2 separate regions of the Homo sapiens genome follow, and region 1 is linked to region 2. Evidence: fine-mapped expression QTL. A gene starts in region 2. The other region holds a variant in brackets. All regions are shown on one strand. Distances are from middle to middle.

Region 1 (8,375 bases), 210 kb before region 2:
CTCTCAGTTGAATTAGCATCCTTAGCCATTATGGACAAAGTCAGGAGCCCGGGCCCTGCGCCATCCTCCTCTCAAGAGGTAACAGAGGAGCAGGGTTGGAGTGGAAGGCACGTGGGGTGATCTCACACCCCCAGGGAGGATGCAGACACCGTAACACTGGCAACACCCACATTTCTACTGCCTGCTAATCAGATGCACAGAGACAGCCCCAGACCTGGCATGTGCATGTGGTGAATCCAGGACTGTTTATTTGGTGAGGAGGACCATGTGGGCCTCACTGAAACCCTCTCCTTGTGTGGTTTTCTGGCTGTGACAGGAAGAAAATGGCTGGCAGCCACAGGAGGCCCCAGGGAAACCTCAACAGTGCTGTCTCCTCCAGAGGGTCTGGGCTGCTGAGGTCTGTGATCAGAGAGGTTCTCTCCTCAGAGGAGGAGGAGACTTGGTGCTCTCAAGTCAGCTAAATCCCATCATGGCCTCCACAGCCAAGATTTCTGTCTTTATTTAAAACCCTCATCAGCAAGGCTCTGGAAATCTGATGACTCGGGAAGCACTGTGAGCCTCACTCCACAGGAAACCCCAGCACCTGGCAAAACGAGCTCCATAAAGAACAAGGGCGCACCACAGAAATATTTGCTATTCTGGATCAAACGTTAAGCTAGTTAATCATTTTGAGTCACACATCACGGTGCATAGCAGAAACAATACTGCTGATGTTCCCAAGACACATTGCAGCTTTATGGGCTTGGGAGCCCCAGTGAGAGTGAATTCTGAAGATCTACAAGGCTTTTAAACAGGTTTTGTTTCTTTCCTAGATTATATTACTGAGCAATGCACTTAAGGGCCCTGAATATTTGTCACTTCGCACACCTTGTTTGTGCCATTTCCCCAGCTTGAAAAAGCCCCCACCCCCAACCTCTGCCGCCCAGGGCTGCTCCTCCCACGGAGCCTTCCTCACATCGCCCCAGCCTGCCCACTCCCACCAGCCAGAATCATCGCGCCCTCCTGGGCTCACACAGCAGAGTGCTGGGCCTTAACAATGGGATCAGCTTCTCACACTAAGCCACTCCTTCTCCATCTTCCCCTCATGGCAAGTTCTCTGAAAGGCAGAGTCATTGATTTCTGTCATCATCAGGTTTTTACAGTGATAGGTCATAGGAAATGCTGGGCTGAGATAAAATGGTTAACCCTCAAGATATCACCTTAAATCCAATGAAAACCCTTAATCCTCAAATCATAGGCCCTATAAACAACTCTACCACGACTAATGTTAGCAACACTAGAACACGAAACCTTGTCTACTTCTAGAGGAGGAGAAATAAACAGAGGAAAGGCCACTGGCCTGTAAGAAGGCCTCACTCAGCTCCCTGGGGGACACAGCTAAACTAGCAAAGAAAGACACTCTGCTGAGAAAAAGGGGCCATACCTCCTCTCGTTTACAAATAACATGTTGGGTTTAGGGGAGATGGGGCAGGTCAGCATCTGAGTTACAGTTTGCAAGTGAAGGGGAAAAGAGCGGTGCAGGCATCTCCAAGCTGCACCTACATGGCCTGTTGCCATACTGCAGGTGCAGAAGCTCCACGAAAGCCATGGGGTTCACGTTGGCTCAACTGCCAAGGGGAGAGCTGTGCAGAGGACAGGCAGACACTCTTACATCTGATCACTTCATAGGCACATCGCTGAGTCTGAGACTCACATGAATGTCTATTTATAAACTCTGAACTTGCATTCAGCAAACAGTTAGCTCTAGAAACCCTCCCTCAGTCTTCTGATCCTCAGGTGCTAAAGTCCTGGCCCCTTCCTGAGCCTGGCAAGAAGCAGGGAGGGAGAGAAGAGAGGCCTGACCCTGCCCACTCCCAGTCAGCACACTGGTTTGCACCAGCCAGGGCATCTGAGATCACGGAACACACTCCCTCCCCATGGAGGCACAGAGCCCAGGCTTGAAGAAAGGTAAGGGCCCTCTCAGTCAAGAAGCCTCTCCACCAGGGGTCTCTCAGCCCCCACTTACACACTCCACAACCTCCAGAAGAGGCACAATTGCACCTCACCCACCCTTCCTATGGCAGCTCACCCCGACCTTCATACCCTCTGTGCTCCAGCTGAAGGGCCCACTGCTTCCTCCCTGAAACCTGGCCTTTGTCCACCTCCACGCCTCCCTCACGCTAGTCCCCTGGGTCAGGGTGCTTCTTCTGACACTGAATGGTCACACCTGCAATCCATCCATCCTTCAGGGCCCAGGCCAAATGCTCCCTCCAGCCCTGTCCTCGATCCCTCGTCGGCGGTGCCTGCCCTCTATGTGTGCCCTGCAGCTCTGCTCCCCAGGGCTGCATTTAGTGTGACAGGCCTGTCTCTCCCTAGGAGGCAGCACTCCACATCCTCTCCAGCTCTGGGTTTCCCCTGTACCCAGCAACAGGCCTTGCTGAGAGCAAAACATCCAAGGCGCTCTGCTCAAGCAGGGACTTGCTCGGCCATCTTCTACAACGTAGGGCCGGCCTCGGGTCCCCAGGCCTCTCAATGGACATGTGCACTTGAAGTACGTTCTTGGTCCTTCCTATCCAACTCTTCTAGATTTGAAGCAAGTCACAGACATCTCAGTCAAATGCATTGCTGGATTCCAGTTTCCACTCTGACCCGAGGCACAAAGGGCCCCAGAGAGAATAAGAGCGCATCTGTGGGAAAAGTATGCAGTGAAAGAGACACCGTGGTTGACAATGGCAATTAATGTCAGTGATGGACTGAGTTCTCAGGCCTTGCCTCCTGCAGAAGGTGCTCTAGGGTGCTTAGTGTCACAGTGTGGGGTGTCGATGGGTGACAGCAAAGCAGCTGTCACTGACTCACGTGCCCCTTAACACCTGCCTAGAATGGTGAGCCGGTTTCCTCCCAGCCCCTGATGGGCTAAGCATATGGCTTCATATGAATAGCACATGTAGGAGCCATGTCAGGTGGCCTAAGAGTAAGAGTCAAGAGGAACCCTGCACTTCAAATTCTTGTCCAATAACACTGTTCACTCTGAGGTGAGGGAAACCACAGCTTCTTCTCCTGTGGTACAAGAATATGTGTCTCATCACCCCTGTGCCCGCACAGAAATGCGCTTACTGAATTTCCCAGGCCAACAGTGGGTCCGTTTGACCTTCCTTGGCTATAAAGCCACCTTACCAAATACAACTCTAAACCCCAAACCTCAGGCAGAAATCCAGAGTCAGCACCAATGCACCTGTTCTCTCCGTGATGTGTGCAGGCAGAAGGGACCAGATGGCTGGGAGGAGGCTGTCCCACTCACAGCCTGGGTCAGAGTCGAGGAAGGCCTACTGCTAGGCGTCTGAACCGCACACTGGGTCTGTCTAGCCAGGGGCAGGAAAGGCGCTACATACTATTTCGTTTGCCTTCCTCTCCTCCTTCTTCCTCATTCTCCGGATCGATGTCCTCAGCTTGGGTGATCCAATCCAAGTAGCCCTTTAGATCCTCCTCCAGCTGCTGCTTCTCCCGGAGCTTCTGGAAATCTCCCCGTGCTTTTGCCTTCTCTCTTTCCTTTGAGAATTCTCTGAAGGAGGCAAAGAGGACAAGCACATATCAGGACATCCTTGGGGACCTGCATCCTGAGCCACTGCCCTACTGCACAACAGTCTTGTGGGCAGGACACACAGCACTGAGTATAGTCACATGAGCACAGCAATGGAGCCACACACTTGGACAGGACAGAAGACAGTGTCTTCCAAAGCAAGACTATGGGGGTCAGAGTCGCAGAGCCCACACCAACACACATGCATCATTTCTTAGAAAATGAACTCCCCTCGATGACAGCGATCTCAAGGGGCCTAGGCCCAAAACACCATGTGCTGTCATGGCAGGCCTCTGACACCCCCCAACAAGGGGCCTGAACTCAGAGACGCCCCACTTTCCCCAGAGCCTCCTCAAAGAGGAGGGACCCAAATGGGCCAAGCTGTGGTCAAAGAGTACCAAGTTTAGAACTTCTTCAATGCTTTTGGACAAACTTTGCATTAATATTGTGTGCTACCCCTTTTGTCCAAACCAAGAGCTCTGAGCAGGCAGCAGTCCTTGCTGGTGCCCACACTAGGCTCCTCTACCCATCACCTGCAGGTTCGGGCCAGAGCAGTGCATGGAGTCAGGGCAGTCCCCACCCCCTCCACAACCCAGTTCTCCCTTCCCAGATGGGAACTCGAGCACTGATGAAGCATTACTGTTTTTCTTAACCCCTGCTACTTGTCATGGTCTTCCCCAAAAGTCTTCCCTGCAGGAGGGGAAGAGGCATATGATTTTCTGCCCATTTATAGGAACACCTGCCCTGGAAAAGATCTGGCAGACAGGTAAATGTTCCCAATTGTGGGGTGTTTATGCTACTTTCCACCATGTGTGCAAGCCTCTGACTATGCATATATACAAAACCCCACATACTCAGGCAAGCCTGAGAGTCAGGTGGACGA[T/C]TACCCAATTTTTATATATGAGGAACCATCTGCATCTCCAACCGTGAGTTGTTATAGGAGCCAAGATATGTGAGTTAGAGACTTAGTAAAAAGCTGCCAAGGAAGCAGGTGAGGTTACAGCAATGCAGTTTCTGCACACAGACCTTGAGATTCTGACACAGGTTACTTCTGTCTGCCTTCTTGCCTTTGTTCCGAGTCAAAGCCAGCATGTCTCTTTCAGGGTCCTACCTCGATAAGCCAACCCAACCCAACTCAACCCAACCCAACCCACGAATGGGGAAGTGACCTGCTTTCATAAAGCTAACCCCAGCCAGGCACGGTGGCTCACGCCTGTAATCCCAGCACTTTGGGAAGCCAAGGTGGGTGGATCATGAGGTCAGGAGTTTGAGACCAGCCTGGTCAACATGGTGAAACCCCATCTCTACTAAAATAAAAAGAATTAGCTGGGCATGGTGGTGCAGTCCCAGTTACTCAGGAGGCTGAGGCAAGAGAATTGCTTGAACCTGGGAGGCAGAGGTTGCAGTGAGCCAAGTTCATGCCACTGCATTCCAGCCTGGGCAACAGAGCAAGACGCTGTCTCCAAAATAATAATAATAATAATAACAACAACAACAAAACTAACCCCATATTCACACCCGTCTCTTAACTCTAGGCTGTCGAGGGGCTGAACAGATGCTTGCACACCCAGTGACACTAATACTTCAGATAAGAAACTGGAATCCTCACCAAGTGCCACCCTCTGCCCACAATTAGAAAGAATCCCACTCAGACAGAGGTTGCGGCGGGCTGAGATTGCACCATTGCACTCCAGCCTGGGCAACGGAGCAAGACTCCATCTCAAAAAAAATAAAAATAAAAATAAAAAAGAAAGAAAGAAAGGAAAAAAAAAAGAAAAGAAAAAGAAAGGATCCCTCTCATAGCTTCTAAATCACCCCACTTTCCAGACTCCCTGGAACCTATCCTTGGTCCTGTTAGGGCTGTCAGTCTCCACTCCACCCCCTGTGAATAAGGAAGGAGGCCAGGCTTTGTGGATCTAGAGAGTGAGCAGGAGCCGATCTGAGCCCAGACACGTGCTCTGACCTCCCAGCCCAAAGAACACCTGCTGTCTCAAAGAAGTAAGGACTCCAGTGTCTCGCCATTCACATGTACCACACCCTGAGAATGGTTTGGGGTTTCTAGGCCTCCGGGGTTTCCTGACACATGGGAAATACATAACTCAGCTCTAGGTAAATTCACCAAATGATTCTCTGAACTCTGAAAAAATCACAACTCAATCCAGAATCACATCCCTGAGCAACAGTAAGAGGGCTTGGCATGTCATGTATCTGCAGGAAAATGAATTATATAATCTGTTTTCTTAAATACATCTCAAAGAAAAGTGGACCTTCAGTTCTATTATTCACCAGAAAAGTATCCTAGTACAAATCTGTTTGCATGTTTTGATTCCGAACTTAGAATACTAAATTCAGATGGTTACATACAAACAAGGTATTCTTACTTTGGGTCCATATCATATATGGGTTCTTGGGAAAAAAATTATGAAGATAGTAAAAGAGTTACCCTGAGAAGCTTAAGGACATTCATTTTATAATGCATAATTACATACATTATATACATTTTATAATGTATTATAATTATATAATTATATTTTATTTTTAAATTATATAATTATATACATTTTATAATGTATAATTACATACATTATAAAATGAACGTCCTTAAGCTTCTCAGGGTAACTCTTTTACTATCTTCCTAATTTTCTTTTGTAATATTTTATGCCTTTTTAACATTACAAATATAAAAATCCCATTTCTAACAAGCTGCATCACTGTTGTACATTTTCCACTGCTGGGACACAGGTAAGCAGGCATAAGTAAAACTCTACTCTGACTAAAATTCCTAGGAGTAAAAAACCCTGCCAAGTCCTGGTTTATGGCCCACTCACAATGATGGTCACTATCACAAAAGCTCATATAACAAAGCTGCTGATATAGACCCTCTGAACTGATTTTAGACAGTTCTGAATGGCTGAATATTTAGCAGGAAGGTATTATTTATTGATGTGGACAGAGGTGAGGTTTATACAGTAGAAATCTGTTGGCCACAGGGCAGGATGGAGGAAGGGGGCAGGGAGGTAGAGTCCCTGTGATAAACCCAGATAAATCCTTGGCCCTCCTACACCACTCTGGGCTCTTCGTCTGAAGACCTGGCTTCTAGTCCTAGCTCTGTCACTGCTGTGTTCTGAGCTTCAGTTTCCTCACTTCCAAACAGACACAACAATACCTGTTCCGCTGTTTCACAGGAATTAAGCAAGACATTCAGTAAGGCTTTGAAAACACAAAGAGTGGTATCAACGTGAAGTTCAAATGTATAATAGTTGTTGAATCCAGACATAAGAGAGACATTCAAAAGGCAAATGGAAGAGCTTTCTCAAATTATCAAAGGGAGAAAAATTAGCACTAGCTGTGAATGGGCTCTAAGCTGCCACAAACCCGTTAGGATTGGGAGACACATAGAAGGACACATGGGTCCCAAGGCTCAGAGTGATCGCAATGAGCTGGCAAACCCACTGCCAATCCTGTACACTATCTGCTCAGTTGAGAATAACCCATTCCCATCACAACTGACCCTCTGATCCTGAAAATCACACCTCAAGTCCGAGGCACCTTCTATCAAACTTTGCAATGATGGGAAAAAAGTTACTCCACTTTGCATAAGAATTCATCATATTCTAAGAATCCTATTACTAAGAGATTGTTTTACAAAGCTTATTTAATAAAGCTATTGGTAGAAACCAACAGACTTTTGCAAGTGACTAAAAATCCAACAACTGTTATATGCTAGGAGTCTTCTTGTTCCAAACCAGAATTTTGGTTATGGTGTGTCTGATCAAAAGATAAATAAGAAGTGCCTGGATGAAAAAAAAAAAAAAAGCAATAAAGTGTGCTACCCTTTACACACGAAAAACTGGGAAATAAAAGGAGCATATTTCTCTCAGGTGTATCTAAAAGAAAGAGCAGAAAACAAGGGATGGGAATGAATTAGGCCAAAGGAATCAAGGTTGGAGTGACACTCTTAAGTATACCTTTTTCTATAGTTTTGACTTTGGGAACCATGTTAATGTTCTTCACCTTAAATTTTTAAAAATTAAGTCAGTAAGGATGAGATGAAGGGAAAATACCCCTAAACTGAAAGTGATTTGAAACAAACAAATCTGTAATTCAAATGAATACCATAACCAGACTGAAGGAGAAAGACAAAACTAATTCAAATAGCTCATGAATATTTGACGACATACTCTCAGTCTTGGGTAGGATTGGAGTGAGGGATGAACTACAAACAAATGCTGAACTCTTTTCAGTAGCTTTGTTTTTTGCAGTGATGTGGATGAGACCATTCTGAAACTATCTTAGACATATTACAGGATTTAGCCAGTGAGTACATGTGCTAATGCTGCTGGGAGCCAGAGTTCTCGCTGTGGAAGGAGGGACACAGAAACACGGAACAGAGAAGAACCCTCTGGGGACAGGCTGGAATTGAAGGTATAGGTGTGAACTGATGATTTCTAAAAGATGTTTATTTTAAAGTCTGATTTCCAATGTCTGATTTTTAAAAGAGGCTGATATGTGAGTATGTGTATGTATCAATGTAAGTATGTGTATGAATATGTGTACGGAAATGCATATATTTCCTAGGTCTGCCTGTTGAAAGGACTTAGAAGCAAAGATGCTCTGGCAGGTACAAGCACACCTGGTACCCACATCTTGGTCTCTAATAACATTCCCCATTAAAAGGAACCAGGGGACTTTGGAGAACTGGGTGATTCCAGGGCAAGGGTAGGGTAGGTACAAGATGAAGAAAATAAGGAAGTGCTCAAAAAACAAAAACAAACCAAAACACATTATGGAGATATGTCATAAGGATACAGGAGCTAGA
Region 2 (8,375 bases):
ATGCTCACGTTCCAAATGCTTCTTTGGAACTTGTCAAAAGGAAATTCCAGGAAGTTATAGCACTGATCAGAGAAAAAAAATCAAAAGTAATCTCTCCCTAGGAAGCATGTGCTCATATCTGCAGCTACCTGAATAATTAGAATCACCAAATGTCAGACTAGAAGCAACCTTAGCATTAATTGTAGTTGCAGAAGCAAATTTCAAACATCAGAATGAGAAGATTCTACTAAAGGTCAAAAATGTATTCCCTTCAAACAGAGTCTTATACAGTCTTTTTTTCTAATCTGTATACCTTGTTTGCAATAGGTTCAATGCATGCTATTGCCCAAAGACAACACTGAATTTAAAACTAACCATCTAATGTCCAATAACCAAAGGTTGGTTTCACATTTTAATTATCTGCCCCTGTGAAGTTTCAGGCTGTCACTCCCTCCCCCTACTACTACTACTATACACACATCCAGACAGTGGGCTAAATATACCCGTACAGCCACCCCTCTGCAACCCGAAGAGACAGGAAGGTATATACAATGAAACCCCTTATATACAACTTCTGTTACTCGCATTCCAGACTGCTACAGCTTTGTGTCACTTCAGAAAGCAAATCCTTTTAAAAAACAGATGGTAAAAGAGAAAATGAGAAAGACTTCCCCCAAAAAAAGGATACTTCCATTCCACTATACTAATGCAGGCTCTTCGGATGGGGTTATTGAGTGATAAACAGAAAAGGGCGCGGGCAGGTCGGCTGTTGGACGAGTTACCCTGTTTTTTGCTCTTGGCGTATTGCTGACGTTTTCTTTGGGAGAGAGATCCTACAGGTGGGGGTGCAGAGGTGCTCATAGTTTGGGCAGCCTTGGCCTGTCTAGCAGCATCGATTGCAGCTTGCCAAGACAGGACAGTTTGCTTGGAGCTATTCGGCTGAGAAGTTGGTCCTTCACCAGAAAGAGGAAGTCTGGTGCCTCTTGCATAGTTTGCCTCTGGGGAGAAGGAGAAAAACAAAGATTTTTTTTTTTAAATGAGGATCCAGTGGGTAGGAGAAAAAAATCAAAGGTTGTCTCCCATCAATAACAGGGGAATCATTCACTCCTATGTTTCCATTTTGAATCTCATGTGCTATTTTTCACAAGCTGGGCTTTAGTCAGCTGGAGAGTCAAGAAAAGTCCACGAGCTCTGGTCTCAGTGTCAATCACACAGGATCACCGCTGCATCACACCCAGTGGGGTTAGTACTCCTTCACATCATGTCTTCACAAAGGGTCTTTTAGTGCATTTCTTCTGACAAAACTGAGGTCATTCCCACATTTACTCCGCATCTCTGATTTGTAAAACCCATCTATCTCTAATGAGTAACAGATACATACAACAGCTTTTCTCTAACATAACTACCACCATCACCAAGGGGAAAAAAAAAGGCAGTACCAATAATTCAATAGTCTTAATCATTTTCAGAGTGTTACTCCAACATCTTTCCACAGCCACAAATGCATTTTTTTCAGTACCGAAAAAAAATCTTCCATAGGCACCCAGGCAATACCAAAAACCCCATAACAAATATCTAGATTATGCACTGACACTTCCTGCAAATGAAAATTCATGATGCTTGGGACTCATTTCCTCCACAGGCTTCCGAAAACAGAAAACATCTTTAGGGCTTTTTTGCATTTTAAATTGCAGCAGCATCAGCCAAGCCAGCATCCAGAGAGACAGACAAGGCAGTCAGCCTGCACCCCTACACCTAGGATAGACTGACTGGATTATGCCAGGGGCCTCCAGGCCTAAGAGGGAATTATCTCCGTGTAGGTTGGTATCCAGGTGCACACAAGGCAGAAACTCAAGGAGGCTCCCTATGCGAAGCCCCCGCCAGCTTTGGGTCAGGCCATCTCCCAGGCAGATCTCCCAGGCACCTGCCGCCTTCCGCCACAGTCTCCTCACTGAAGCAGAAGTGAGAGAGGTGACAGCAAGGTAGAGAGATGGGCGTTTGCAAAGCCAATTATTGCTAAGTAAAGAGTCAAAGCAAGCACGGGTCTGAAAGCCTGAGAAGAGGGCAAAGCGGGCGAGCGGCGGGCAATCGGAGCGGGGACGAGTCGAGTCATGTCAAGCTTCTCCCTAGGGGAGCGCTCACCCGGAAAGGCTTCCAGCCGACAGGGGTTGGGGGGCACTGGCGGTCTCCAAAGGGGAGGGCTGGCCAGGAGCTGCTCCATCCTCCCTCGACCCAGCCCCGGCCGGCGTGGAAGCTGCACGTGGTGCCCGGGCCAGAGCTGGGGAGGGGAGCCCCACAGCGGCAGCGGCTCCCCGGGCATTGCTAGGTTACCGACGTGTGCACAGCCGGCGACGGGAGCGGGAACGCACGCTCCACCCGAACCCCTTTCCCCGATACCGAGGCCGGGCCTCCCCCGCGAGGGGATGGGTGTGCTTCACCCACCGGCGCGGAGGGCGAAACCGGGCAATCCTAGAATTTTCCGGATGCCACCAGGGACCTTCTTCCTAGTCAACGAGGGGGCGGGGGAGGAGTGGAAGGCGAGAAGAGGCTGGCAAGGGGGCTCCGGCTGAAGACTTGCGGCCCTCCTGCCATCGCTCGGGGGCGTTGAAGGAAAGTTGAGCCCGAGGACACTGAACCCGAATCACCCCGACTCGCCGCCCCTCCGGCTGCACCGCGCTCCACACACTCCACGGCCGCCCCCACCCCACAAATGCAGAATTAACTCTGACATTCAGGGCCTGGAGGGGAGCGCGGAGTGGCTGTCACGCATGTCCCCTCTCTGTGTAGACGACACCGAGCTGGCAGCACCCTCTCCAACCCCCTCAACCCATCCAGCGCCGCGGGGAAGGGGGAGGGGGCTGGAGGACCATGACAGGATCGGATTTGGCAGCGGGTGCCCGGGCTCTGGCTGCTCACCGTTCGCGTGGTCCGCTTGCTGCTGCCGTTGATGCTGCATTTTTTTCATCATCATCATCATCATCATCCACGAACATTTATTGAGCGACTACTGTGTGCAGGGCACTGTGCTGGGCGTTGAGGCGGGGGCGGAATGGGGAAGGGGATCACCAAGAGGTAGGAGCCGCGGTCCCTGCCCTTATTCTCGCTTCAGCAGGGGGGTGGGGAGGGACGGGGACAAATAACAGAAAATAAGGATAATTGATTTAAAAAAAAAACCGCTCGCCACCCAAGCTCTCTCTTTTTCAAAAATGGAGCAAAATAAACTTTTTAAAAAAATAAAATCCAATGTATATATTATCTTAATAATATATACATGTAATTTTTTGCTGCAAAGGAGAACTGGCTTGTCCCCTCCTCTAGCGGAGAGACGCCGCGGTGATGCCGGCCCGGCCGCCGGGGCCGCTCGGCGCTCCCCCCATGCCCGCCCGTCTGCCCGCCCGCCGCGGTGCCCGGTGCCCGCCGCCGCCGCCCGCGCCGCCGCTGGCTCGGGACCGCGGGCAGCCGGAGCTCACATCCGGGGACGGAGGCGCTCGCCCGCCCGCTCGCTCCGCGCCCGCCGCGCCGCGCCGCACGCCGGCTTCGCCCTGGCGACGCTGCGCGCCCGCCGCCGTCCCCCGCCCTCCGCCCGCCCCGAGCCGCCCACGGCCCGCGCCGCGCCGCGCCCCGGCGGGTCTGCAGCCCGGCGCGCGGTTCTGCCCGGCACCACTTGCGCGCTCGGGGTGGCCGTCGCGTGGGACTCGGGGTGCCGCCACCCCAGCCTGGCCCGGCTGACCTGCGGGCTCCAAAGGGTTAAGCGCGCTCCAGCGGCGGGCTGCCCGGTTAACCCCCTCCGCGCCGCACGGTGCGCTCTCCCCCCGGGACCCGGAGGAGGCAGGCGGCGCCAGTGTCTCCCGCGGCGCTGGGGTGCGGATGAACCGCTCCTCCCCGCGCATTTCTGGGCTGGGGGACAGCTCGGGCTCCCGCGCCGGCCCCGACTCCGCGCCGGCCTCCTCTGCGCACACCTGGAGGAGGCCCCGCCCCCTGGGAGCTCAGGTGCTAGCGGGCGGTAGCTGCTGCGGTCTCCGAGCTCATCCTCGTCAAGGCTCGGCCGGGCTCCCTGGCTGCTCCGGAGCGGGGCAGGCGCCCCCTGCTTTTCTCCGGCCCTTTCTGGAATCGGGGGGGTTGGGGTAGCCCGGGTCTGTAGAGAGCACTCACTACCCCAGGTAACTGCCTGCAGCTGGAACCGCGAATCCAGGGCGCCCCCCATCTTCTCCCCTGCCCTGCGCCTGGCCTGGCGTCGCGGAAGGCAACGGGGATGGGGGGCAATATCTCCCCCCACCCCACCCCGCCCCCACGTGTGTTTGGAGGCAGGTACAGGGAAGTCAAAGCCAAGGTCTTTCAAACCGCTCGTGTTGTTCAAGGAAATAGACGGTGCTGCTGAAACTGTTGCCTCCAGTCTGGGAGCTGAAGGGAGTAGTTTATTTTTTGATACCTTCGCTGGCTTGGATTTAGGGTGGGGGAGATTTGCAAACGGCAGCTCCTGTCTAAAGGGGAAAATACTTTATCTAGTGGATGACTGATATTTTTCATTTAGCTTTGTGCTGCCTGTTAGGAGAAGGGCGTCTGCTTTGTTACTTCACAGGATTCGATTTATTTGCTTTTGTTCCTATCTGCATGTTCCTACGGCGTTTTAGAACGTTTCAGAACAGTGACTTTAAAGCGAAAATAAAGTAAAAGCTCAGCGTGAATTAAGAAAAATAAGTGTTTATGGGAAGGTGCTCCTTACCCAAAGAGAACACACTAGTCATCCTCAATTGTTGGGGGGCACCTGGGCAGAGAGACTGGGGACCAGACAGAAGACTCTCCAGAGGCCTTCCTGAGGGGGTGTCTGGTCCGTGAGGATGAAAACAACCAGGCTCTTGTCCTTTTTTGTGCTTTGTTTTTGGAGACTGGAGAGGCGAGAAATCGCCCTACGGTCTAGTAACAATATAAAGCTGGCCTGGGCCACCTCTCCTATGGCTGCTTCTGATCCAAAATCTGAAGGGAATAGAAGACGGTTCCCTCCAAAGAAACTAGCCCATCCAAGGAGCATGTATGAAATTCACAAGTACACATGTCACTTTCAGAACTCCTGGTCTAAAGCCTTGCCTCTTGAGGCCTTTTCTACAAAATTCCCTGAGCAAGTTTGTTTTATGATACCTTTGCTGGCTCAGATTTGGAATGGGGGAGATTTGCAAACAGCAGCTCCTGTCTAGAGGGAAAAATACTGTATCTAGTGGATGACTGAGCCGAACCATATTTGCTCATTGTTCAGTTCAGTGCAGCCAGCATTCATAAGGCACCGGTTAAGAATAAGGGTCTGGTCTAGATGTCAGGACAAATCTATGGCACAGTTCCTTCCTCAAGGACAACCTAATGACAGAAGAAAAGTTTGTATACTTTTTTTTTTTTTGAGACGGAGTCTTGCTCACTCTGTTGTCCAGGCTGGAATGCAGTGATGCAGTTTCAGCTCACTGTAACCTCTGCCTGTTGAGTTCAAGAGAGATTCTCCTGCCTCAGCCTCCTGAATAGGTGGGACTACAGGCGCGCGCCACCACCCTCAGGTAATTTTTGTATTTTTAGTAGAGACGGGGTTTCACCGTGTTGGCCAGGCTGGTCTCAAACTCCTGACCTCAGGTGATACACCTGCCTCGGCCTCCCAAAGTGCTGGGATTACAGCCGTGAGCCACCGCGCGCCCGGCCGTGTATACTTCTTTCATACCATGCAAACATAGCAGCTATAACAAGTATGAAAAAGCGCTATACAAGCATCAGACAGATTAATTGTAACTGAGGGAACTGAGATGTTTTCACAGAAGAGAGGGCATTTGAACTGATTCTTAAAAACTGACCGGGAGAAAGAGGGATGAATAGGTGGCATACAGGGAATTCTAGGGCAGTGAAGCTATTCTTTATGATACTGCCATGATGGACGTAGGACATTATGCGTTTGTCAAAAACCCGTTGGACTGTACACCACAAAGCATAAACCCTAATGCAAACTATAGACTTTTGTTAATAGTAGTACCACAATATTGGTTCATCAATTATAACACTGGGGTGTACCAGTGTTATAACTGTGTATATAGTGTAGCTCACTAATGCAAGATGTTAATAGGAGAAACTGTTGGGGGAGAGAATATATGGGAATTCTGTCCTTGCTGCAAAATTTTTCTGTAAACCTAAAACTGCTCTTAAAAAAAATAAAGTCTATTAAAAACAGGTGACTACTTTTACAGGGCATAAATGATGTATGAGGAATGAGCTTTGGGGGTAAGAGCAAAGGCACAGGGGAGACTGAAGTGCAAGGTGGGTGTGTTTAAAAATGAGCAGGAGCACAGTGTGGCTGAGGCAAAGACCCCCTGGGCTAGAGGAGGAGGAGGCTGGAAAGGCCAACCCAAATCTGTGGAGGAAGGCTGGCTGGCTAAGAAGACCAGATTCAATTTCTTGGCAGTGAGAGCCAGTGAAGTTGTTTTAGCTCAAAAGTGACATGATTAAATTGTGGTTTCGGTCTCCAGGTTTTGTGCGTTAGATCTTAACAAGTTTATGGTATTGCAGGAGGGTTTGGGGTTTTTTTTTTAAATAATTATTTTTAGAAACAGGGTCTCACTATGTTGCCCAGATTGGAGTGCAGTGGTGTGATCATAGTTCACTGTAAGCTGCAAGCCCTGGCTTCAAGCAGTTCTGCCTCAGCCTCCCAGCGTGCTGGGATTACGGGCATGAGCCACTGCTCAGCCTTGAATTGGAGTTTTTGACATTCCATCCCAGTTTCTGAATGAGTCTCATCTTGGCGATGTCTCCAGCAAGCATTTTTTTTTTTTGAGGGCCTTGATTCAGCACAGCTCTAGATGCGTTGGCCCATTGGGTAATTTAAATATTTATATTCCCATGATAATGCAAACTACTGAATAAATAAATAATAAGATCTTTTAAAGGCTTCCTGTGTGCCAGGTTCTAGGGTAGGCACTTTATATGTACTAACTCATTTAATTCTCGTAACAAGCCTACGAGGTACTATAAAACCCTCATTTTGGCCAGGCTCAGTGGCTCATGCCTATAATCCCAGCACTTTGGAAGGCCAAGGCGGGCTTGAGTCCATGAATTTGAGACCAGCCTGGCCAACATGGTGAAACCCCATCTCTACTAAAATTACAAAAATTAGCTGGGGATGGTGGCGTGCGCCTTAAGTCCCAGCTACGTGGGTGGCTGAGGCAGAAGAATCACTTCAACCTGGGAGGTGGAGGTTGCAGTGAGCAGAGATTGTGCCACTGCACTCCAGCTTGGGCAACGGAGCAAAACTCTAAAAAAAAAAAAAAACAAAACTCATTTTACAGACAACAAAACCAAGACACTGAGGAGTTAAGTAGCTCGCCCAAAACCACACACAATTACTTAGTAGCTGAGCCAACAAGACATGAGGAAAGGCTAAAACAAAAGATTTCAGCTCTAAATCAGCTACATGTGCTACAACCCAATTATGTTGCTAACACACTATTGTGGGGTCTTAATCTCCATGACCTTATTTATAAAGCACTCCCACTTGAACGCACTGAGCTGGCATGCCAGACATGATTACCTGCGTGCACTGCATTTCAAAAAACCTTGCTGATGGCCCAGTCCAGAACCTCACCATCTCACACCCCAGGTCATGCACAAGATGCCCATTCTCCATTTTTCCTCCCACAAATAATCCATCTTGTTCAAAACACACCATGTCACTTCCCTGACCAAAAAATGTTTTCTTCCTCCTTCCTTCCACATTCAACCTAAACTCCTCTGACTAGCGTTCAACCTTATCATCTCGCACCATTCACTTTAAACTGTGGTCAGCAGTCTCATTAGACTGTGAACATGCTGTGCTCATTTCTGACTCTCTGCTTTGGCTCCTGTTTATTCGCTGACCAGGAATCCCTACCTTGTTGACTTGCTGACCTCTCACTAACCCCTCTCCATTGAAAAAGCCTCGGTCAAGTCTCTGCCTCCTCCAGAAGACTTCTCTGATTGCTACTGCTGCTATGGACACTCGTGTGCCCCCACCCCCACCTCCCCTTCCCTAAAGGCCTGCAGCACCTGGCTTCCCCTTTGATGACATACATTCTTGTGTCTTGTGTGATTGCTTCTTGGCTATAAATCCTGTCTCTCCAACCACCGTGTGGGTCCTTAAGCAAGGATCACCTCCTTAACCCCCTCTCCCTGCTGCTAAGTGTTATGCTCACAGCGGGCACTAAATACTCTGATTAGTCTGCACAGGATCATAAAAGCCCACATAGATCACCAGAAATTGTCAGCTGATATTTACAAAAATCCCATAAAGTTTATGGTAGCACACTTGGCCCTTAGATGGTAAAAATATAAAACAGAGGGAAAATTGGGTCCTTTGCACACCAGGAATTCTAATTAAGGAAGATAAACAGATCCTG

What was found.
Region 1: its variant is fine-mapped to the expression of CACNA1D in whole blood (TOPMed, PIP above 0.99).

The regions. Positions count from the first base shown.
Region 1 is chr3:53,697,804-53,706,178 of GRCh38, reverse strand. CACNA1D (calcium voltage-gated channel subunit alpha1 D) reads right to left here. Exons shown (of 48, transcript NM_001128840.3): 9 at 3,369-3,538. Among named protein-coding and RNA genes, the nearest start is that of CHDH, 140 kb to the left of the region's middle. The variant T/C (reference allele first, on the strand shown) is at 4,440.
Region 2 is chr3:53,489,754-53,498,128 of GRCh38, reverse strand. It overlaps CACNA1D (calcium voltage-gated channel subunit alpha1 D), which reads right to left and starts at 3,518. Exons shown (of 48, transcript NM_001128840.3): 1 at 2,896-3,518; 2 at 668-977. The coding sequence starts at 2,962. RefSeq lists enhancers at 1,669-2,453, 2,454-3,239, 3,570-4,069.